Regions from separate parts of the Homo sapiens genome. Here region 1 is linked to region 2. Evidence: fine-mapped expression QTL. A gene starts in region 2. The other region holds a variant in brackets. All regions are shown on one strand. Distances are between the middles of the regions.

Evidence for each region. PIP is the estimated chance that this variant, and not a neighbour inherited with it, causes the effect.
Region 1: its variant is the best candidate, but not a certain one, in a credible set for the expression of LINC02798 in adrenal gland (GTEx, PIP 0.88).

What each region holds. Positions count from the first base shown.
Region 1 is chr1:120,488,281-120,492,665 of GRCh38, forward strand. It overlaps the pseudogene PDE4DIPP2. Among named protein-coding and RNA genes, the nearest start is that of NBPF8, 75 kb to the left of the region's middle. The variant C/T (reference allele first, on the strand shown) is at 2,200.
Region 2 is chr1:121,393,636-121,398,020 of GRCh38, forward strand. It overlaps LINC02798 (long intergenic non-protein coding RNA 2798), which reads left to right and starts at 1,937. Exons shown (of 2, transcript XM_047438024.1): 1 at 1,937-3,669. The coding sequence starts at 2,249. The coding sequence ends at 3,292. SRGAP2-AS1 (SRGAP2 antisense RNA 1) reads right to left here and starts at 4,270. Exons shown (of 4, transcript NR_104189.1): 1 at 4,128-4,270; 2 at 3,846-4,031. RefSeq lists a silencer at 2,014-2,308.

The DNA of each region.
Region 1 (4,385 bases), 910 kb before region 2:
TTCTACCTGTTTTTATTTTTTAAATGTTTCTAGTACATAATTGTGAAGTGATAGCTTATTTTAATCTTGGGAATCAAAAGCATGTAGCTAAGAACTTTTCCCAAGGAATATTTCAAAATTTTTATATCAATGTTTATGGAATGACATACTTTTTGATTCAAGGTTCTTAAATGTAGTTTTAGTTTTGATTCAATGTTATAGAACACTGTTTTTTTAAACTGTGATCTGAAGCCCACATGTAATGGAATCACCTGGGGTGCTTATATTAAAAAAATGCAGATTCTAGGGCTCACACCAACTAAATCTCCTGGGATTGGAGACCAGGAGGTAGCTCCTATAATCTCCACAGCTGCTTCTCAGGCACACCAAGTTTAAGAACCATTCTTTCATATTTTCAGACTGGGGATTCTTACAAAATGACAAAGAAGGAAAACCTTAATCTTTTAAAGTTAGAGTTCAAGCATTAGACTATATGCTTCTTAAACACAGTTTGTCTTTCCCATTTTCTCTTTCCAGTTCTTTATACTGTCAAGGGATTGGTGCAGAAATGGGAAACAAAGCAGTGAAAGAAAAACTATTTATTTCTTTATACACATCTTGCTTAAACAATCACCAAAAAGACTTTCATTTTCTGTCACCCACCCTGTCCACCAGTTATGTTGGCCTTCAATATGTGGCGTTAGCAACATATATAAATCTATATCATATATTTATACACACAAACACATTCTACCAGCACTGTGAAGACACAGACTAGGCTTTACTAGGCTTGGGGCCTCTCCCATGCCACTTAAAAATGAGCACAGGTTTGCTCTATGCAAGAATTTCAACAGAGTTGGTCTGGCCATCAGTCTGCAATTTCCCCGAGATAAGATAGGGTGACAAAATGGGACAGCAACTTTGAAGTGAGGTCAGTCCAATTTGGATATCATAGAAGAAAAGAAATAGGATGTGCTAGGTTAAGCCTGAGATGGTATCTGGGAAATCACCACATTCATGATGTGAACTCAAAGAACACAGGTGCTACAGTGCAGACCAAAGCCCAGCCTGACTCGACCCAACAGGGTCAGGTGTGGATCTGTGAGTAGTGCTCACTGAGCCCCCGCCAGCAGTGTCCGGCAGGGCACCGCTGCTCCGTAGTGTGCTTTTAGAACCTGCCAGAGGAGCTCCAGCATTGGGACCACGTGCCCCTTTCATCGGAATCAGGGTCCTATATCCACTGAGTTTTCCATCTCAGGACAGCTGATGAGGCAAGAAATGTGCTCTTGCTAGTTCCCAAGCTGCTGGGGCTGTTGAGAGGCAGTATCACAAAACCTTCTGTGCAAACTACGCATCTTTTGCTTAGTGCTGGGCCAAGTGGACCTTGGCTAACGGTATTCCATAGCTGTCACAAAGGCTTTCTGCCTTTCTCCCAGCTCCACCAGGATACATCTCTGACTCCCTCTTCTGGACCCTCCAGTGGACTTGGAGGAATGAGGCCCAGATGCTCCTCAGCAGATAGGTAGCTGCACAAAATGGGGACAGGCTCACCTTTCCTGCTGTTTTAAGGACTTCTGGTGGCTGCGCTTCTTGCATGGTTCCTGGAAGGCAAGGGTCACAAGGCTGGAGTACACGGCAGAGCCCTTAGGGATTTCACCTGCAGACAAACATAAAACAAACCAAATCAGTGTATATTGCCAGGTCCTACTGATGGCTACCTGAAGCTGGAGTGAGAGCTACGTGGTGACCAAAGCCAGGAGCACGGTGAGAGCCAGTTAAGAGGATGAGCTAAGAGCATGCGCTGCAGTCTGGAGGAGCAACAGGTGCCCGAGGTTAGGGGGAGCCTCCCCACCTCCCTGTGTGCTGAGATCCCTGCTCCAATTCACTGCACACTGGGTGGCTGGATCCTACCACTCCCCCTTCAGGGGCCAGGTGACTCTCCAAATCACTTTGTCTCAGCAGAAAGAGGCCTTTGCCATCTCCACCCAAGAAAGAAGTGCTTAGCATGAAACATGCACATATAGAAACAGCCTGTTTGTAGGAAGAAGAGGACATTTTGCTGGGAAGTCCTCTGTTAAGTTTATGTCCAGTTGCCATAATGAGGGTGTGGAGGGGCCAAGTCCACAGGGACCTCAGAGCTCAACTAAGTTCAGTTCCATCTTTGACAGATGAGGGTGCAGCAGTCTCACAGAGACTAAGGGACAAGCCAAAGCCACACAG[C/T]AGTTAGTGATAAGCCAGGGATTAGAACCGAGGCCTCGGGTCCTTTCCAGTGATCTATGGGAGGTGGAGGGGAAAGCTTCCACACTGGAGAAAGCCAGTGGATACTAGAGATTTTTGGGTTACCTTTTAGTGGATACTAGAGACTTTTTGGGTTACCTTTTCTGGGACAGGAATAAGGCTTTACAGAGGCAATCCTGTAAGTGCTGCTCTAAAGAGGCTCAGGAAAGAGAAGAATTATCAGAGAAAAACAAAAGGGAATTAGTGAAAAAATAAAAAAAAGAGCAAGTTAAACTGGCCCAAGTCATTTTCACACTATGGAGATCAACATTCTCTCAGGTTATGGATTAGAAACATTTCTAGGAATATGCTGAATTGCTTATGGCAAAGCTTTGATGTCCATGTTAAAAGGTTTAGTTTCTGATTTTTAACCATTTCATATACCTCAAGTTTTTCTTCAAAGCACTTCCTAGGGAATGATTAACACTTAGTGTTTTAAGTAAATGTAGATAATGTCTGGTACATATATAACATTTTTTCCCTGAAGGTTCAGTTGTTATTTATTAACAAATTTGCTTTTAGACCAATGAGACCCAACAGATCTCTTTTGTCATGTTACTTAAAGATACAGCAAAATCAAATCGCTGTTCTTAACCCGGGAATGTGCAGTGAAATCAGTTTATTAGGTTGCAAATTGCTTTTACTTTTTCATGAAGAGTAGAACACATAACTGGCCTCAAGATCCCTCTACTAGAAGCTCATTCAGAGGCAGACTCCCGAATGTCTAATGACTTCAAGAGTCAGCTGAATTGCATTTCTCCAGTCTCTGAACTTGGCCTCAAAGAAGAAAAATTGGAGTAAAAAGGAGAGATGATGACAATGTGAGAGTGAACCAAGATACAGGGGCAGGAGCTGACGGGGTGGGAGGGTGATAGGGACAGAAACTAGCAGGATGCTCACTGAGGACCTGTGATCTTGCAAGTGGACCCCAAATCTTCTCCTGGAAGGCCAAAGCAGGCCAAGAGTCACCTACAAGATCTGCTAACGGATGGTGATGGGTGGGGGACAGGCTTGGTGCCTCTGACTGGTGCAGTAGTTTCCTTACCTCTAAGTTAGTCCTTGCCTTCTTTAAAACATCATGTGTTCTGGTTACTGAAACAACAAAAGAGCACCACAGAGTAGAAACCACCAGCAGAAATTAACCCTACTTGCTTAGCGTGAGAATTCTAAAGCATTTATTTCTTTCTGGCTATTCAGCTTGGAGTCTCCTTCTATCCACCCCCTGTCCTCCCCTCCCTCTGCAGCCACAATTGCTCCTGGCACAGGAGGTTTGGGGACATCAAATCAGTCTCCACTCCCAACATCCCCAAGCCCCCCTGATCACTTCTCATCTGAAGCACAAGTGGGGCATCGGGAAGACTGCCTGTTTCTGCCCCCGTTCCCTCTCAGGGAACCTACGCTGGCTGACAATGAACTGTTCCATGCTCTCCTTCTGCTGGTTGGCATTCTTCAGATGCTCAGTTGTGCTCTGAAGGAGCTGCTCCTGTTTGGATACTTTGGTTCTCAGTTCCAGAAGTTCCCTTTCTGTTGATTCTCCCTGGATAAGAGGAACAGACTCTTACTGACCAGGCAGAAGGCCTAAAGCACCCTGTGCTTTGTGGCTCTTTCCAATTCAAAGAAGGATTCTACAGTCTTCTCAACTCTCTTGAACTGGATTTCCTCCTTCACAGCCTTGGATATCTCCAGCTGAGGACAGTTCAGGATGAGGCCATTAGGTAGGAATATTGAGACTCTGGAATTCCCCATGCAGACTAGCACAGGCCCACACACCTGTAGCTTAAGAGAAACTTGCTTCAGGCTGGTTTAAAACTCCCAACTCTGAAGAGGACCTTGCTTTAGTCCTGATATCAGTTCTGTCACTCTCCCTTCACAGGTAAGATTGAGAGTTCAGAAGTGTTATGCTGGGGAGAGAGATCTGGACTCAGGGAAGTCTGCAAGTTTGTAAATATTTGTGCCAACATGAAGATGGCACAACACCCTCTCCCTGGAATTAGCATAGTTGGATCCAAAAGGTATTGGTGCCATTGACCTGGAAGTAGAATCCCTGGGGAGGGGATCCTGAAACCTGCCTACACGAGGGTCTGCCAATCAGAGTTAGCCTGAGCTCTGAGCAGATCCTGAGGGGAGGC
Region 2 (4,385 bases):
GATCAGAAAGCCACCATTCTAATTGATGGTTCCACGACTACACGGGCTCACACTCGCAAGAGCAAAAGTAAATCATCACAAAGGTGCTTCTTGATAATTCTAGAGAATGGAGAATTACTGTAACATCTTTCTGATTTTAGGAGAGGTAGCAGTTCCCTTTTTAGCCTAAACGCTATTTCTTTTTAAAGCTCAGCCAAGAGACTCCATTATAATTTTCAAATGTGTGTAACTTAAATTCTCATATGAAATACCACTATGCTTAAATTAGTCAAAACATTTTCCCCATCTACAACTCTATCTTGTCATTGTAATCATTTTCACAAAAGTGACTGCAGCTCTCAGACCCTAAAAAGAGAAAATCCAGGGTAGTTTATCTGATCTAGTTAGTTTCGAAGACAGGATCTAGAGATTATTTAATATGAAATGGGTCACCTGAAATGAAGTGTTTACTGAAAACAGCTTGGATCAGCCCAGTTTTCTACCACTGAACCATGCATTTGGTTTAAAAAACACAACAACTCTGGGGAATATCGGCTGCTTCCAACTGTGTTGAAGGTGTTAAAGAAAAGAGCATAAAATTAAAAATGATCATCTGAGGCCTTTATAGTCTCTGCTCAAGAGACTAGAGTTTTCCATTCTTAACTAAACACCCAAATATCTTAATAATTGGGCAAAATCTAAATATCAGAGATAATTTTATCTTGAAGATTGTTAAATTATAATGGTGATTCACTAGCTTGCCACGTCTCTGAGTCAAAAATTAGGTCTTTGTTTAGGAATCAATCATAATCTGCAATTTGGAAATAGGAAGATTTTAGAAGACTCAGACATTGACTTTCTTCTGTGCAAAAAAAAAAGACGTATTGAGATAAGACAAGTCTTTCCTTGCAAGGATACCTCTAATGCTCATACACCACCTCCCCTAACATTAATAGAGCTTCCAGGTCACTAACCAGTGTCAGAGAGCAGCCCATGCAACTAGAAATTCAAAAGATGTCGAACATAGGGTCAAGCTTAGAATAAGACGTCTTAGCTAATTAAGTATGCTTTTTTCCCGAAATTCATATTAACAAAATCTTGGATATGTCAGAGAATGCATTCTAAGTTCACTCAACCTAGGAGGGAGAAACATAATTTTAAATTAAGAGCTGAAGCATTCTTGTCCTAACACAAAGCAAGGAAAACGAAATATCACACCACAGGAGGGATTTCACAAATTTGCGTCAACATCAAAACCTTAAAATAGGCAAGGAGAATGCAGATTCACAATGAACTCTTGTACTTGTTTTGTTCAGAGGAGAGATGGTTCTGAGAGAATGACAGTGAACTAACCCCAGCTGGTTTAGTTGGTGCTTTCAACTACTGCTTCTGATCAACTCCTTTAGCTAGAATAAATTGATGAGGATTTTGGCATGTGGTATTAGAGATGGTTATTAATTTTTTCCTCTTATTTGCATTGTTCAATATAGTAAATACTAGCTGTATATGGCTACTTCAATTCAAATTAATTACAATGAAATATACTTAAATATTGAATTTCTTAGTCACTCTTGGTTCATTATTGAATATCTTCAGCTAAGATTTCCCAACTAAAGACACTAAGAGGTGGCTTAGTTAACTGGTCATCCACAAATATTGAAGCTGCTGTTAACTCCTGATATATTCTCTGCAAGGAGAATACTCATAAGCCTCCTCCTGAAATCAGCAGCCTAGAGATAGTTTTATAAACTGGATACAAGTTGGAAATCTATATACTCTTTAAGTGTTTGAAATATTAGCTTCCCAGGGAAGAAAATCAAATTCATAAGATATGCTAGGACAATTTAACTCAAGATGTTCAAAACTGAAATGACATATTCTACAACATGTGATAAAACCACCCCCTAACAACTTAAAGCAAAACAGGGATGGACCTTAAAGACCTGCCTTTTCCTCATCCCCCAGCCAATCAGTTTTCAAATCTTGCATTTTATTTTGAAAGGTCCCTATCCCCCTGGTCTCTTGTTTCTAGACTTGGCACATATTTAAGTTTGTTACCTCTCTCTACTGACTTTTCTCTCTTCAAACAGTATCTATGCCTGCCAAATGTGAACGTACAAGAAACAAATCAGAATGTGTCATTCTGATTTAAACTGCTTATTAGTTAATACCCTCAAGATAACATCTGGGTTCTTAGCTTCAATGAGTCAAGCCTACTTACATCTTTTTGTCTTTGGCTGCTCATTTCCTATCACATCGCACTCCAGCAATGCCAAGCTGTGCCGGCCTTCCACTCCATCTCCATTATTTCGCCCTCCACCGCCGCCGCCACGGCTTTTTGCCCCCCCGCCGCCGCGGCTTATTCCCCCCACCCCGCCTCGGCTTTTTGCCCGCCGCTGCTTTGTGCCCCCCCGGCGCCAGGGCTTTTAGCCCGCCGCGGCTTTTTGACCCCTTGCCGCTGCGAATTTTGCCGCCGCGGCTTTTTGTCCCCCGCCGCTTTTTGCACCCCGCCGCTTTTTGCACCCCGCCGCTTTTTGCCCCCCCCGCCGCCGCGGCTTTTTCCTCGCCGTGGCTTTTTCCCCCCTGCCCCCACGGCTTTTTACCCGCCGCGGCTTTTTGTCCCCTGCCGCCGCGACTTTTTGCCCCCCGCCGCCGCGACTTTTTGCCCCCACCCCGCCTCGGCTTCTTGCCCGCCGCGGCTTTTTACCCCCCGCCGCCGCGGCTTTTTGCCCGCCGCGGATTTGTGCCCCCCTCGCCGCCGCGGCTTTTTGCCCGCCGCGGCTTTCTGCCACACACCCGCCGCCGCGGCTTTTTGCCCCTCCGCCGCCGCGGCTTTTTGCCCCCACCTTGCCTCGGCTTTTTGACCGCCGCGGCTTTTTGCCCCACCACCGACACAGCTTTTTGCACACTCGTCGCCTTGGCTTTTTGCCGCCGCGGCTTTCTGCCCCCTCGCTGCCGCGGCTTTTTGCCCCTCCGCCACCGCCGCTGCTTTTTGCCCCACCGCCGCCGTGGCTTTTTGCCCGCCGCAGCTTTTTGCCATCGCGGCTTTTTACTCGCCACGGCCTTTTACCCGCCACGGCTTTTTGCGCCCCGCTGTCACGGCTTTTTGCCCCCCTGCCGCAGCGACTTTTTCGCCGCCGCGGCGTTTTGCCCCCGCCGCCACGGCTTTTTGCCGCTGTCGCCGCCGCTTTTTGCCCCCGCCGCCGCGGCTTTTTGCTGCCGCGACTTTTTGCCCCGGTCGCCGCCGCTTTTTGTCACCGCGACTTTTTGCCCCCGCCACCGAGGATTTTTGTCCCCGCCGCCACGGCTCTGAGGGCAGGAGCGGCAGACTCGGCTGCCAGCTCTACTGGCGTCCTGGCAAGGGCAGCGCCGAGGGGTGCTCCTGGTCCAGCTCTCCTGGCTCAGGGATTCTTTGCCTAGGCGCCGGCGCCCCGGGCTCCTTGCCTAGGCCCCTGTGGCCTGCATAGAGTGGCGCTGCCTGTGGAGGCGGTGGGAGAGAAGAAGGAGGGCGGTGGTGGGGGTGATGCGGCGGCCACGGAGGGTGGCACAGGGGCTGCGGCCAGCCGGGCGCTGCAGCAGTGCGGGCAGCTCCAGAAGCTCATCGTCATCTTCATTGGCAGCCTGTGCGGGCTGTGCACCAAGTGCGCTGTGTCTAACGACCTCACCCAGCAGGAGATACAGACCCTGGAGGTAAGGGGTTCGGGGACCCGGGCTGGGCTCCAGGAGCGGCCCGGACACCTCCTTCGGGGGCCCCAGTTCACTCCTGGCCGAGTTGCATCTTTGAGCCCACGTCACCCCCTTGGAGGCTTCCCCTCCCTCCTGCACTCGCTGATGCGGCAGCCAGAGGACCCAGGACCAGCCCTCACCTTGGGCAGGATTTGTGGAGCGGGTGCGTGGTGGGAACTGGGATGGAGGCTCCAGGGTCCCGTGGGGGTGGGGGTGGGCTGCGTGAGGACATCCCCTTACCCCCTGAATTTCCATCTGGTCCAGCCCTCTCATCTTGTAGGTGAGGAAACCGAAGGCCCGAGGGAGAAATGACTTGCCAGGAACCCCTGTTAAGGAAAATTAACAAAGTGTGGTTATTAAAGAAGAACTGAGTTGGGAGTCAGACCTGGAGGCCCGCACCCGCGGTTAAGACATTATACCACCTTGAGTCTGGCCTGTTGACTGAGGGTGAGCCACTCCATCCTCATGTGATTGTGGGGTCTTAACCTCAAGGGGTTTCCTGCAGGAAGAAGCAAATGGGTTTGCTTTCCTAGCTCTGTCCAGTACGTTAGGGACCCTGAGGACTGAAGAGATTCTTGGAGAGCCATCTGGTGTATGTCATGGGTGGGTCTTTTTGGAAGGTCAGTCTGCCCAGTGGGCTGGCTCAGCCCGAATGAACTGTCTTGAATCTTTGGAGTTGT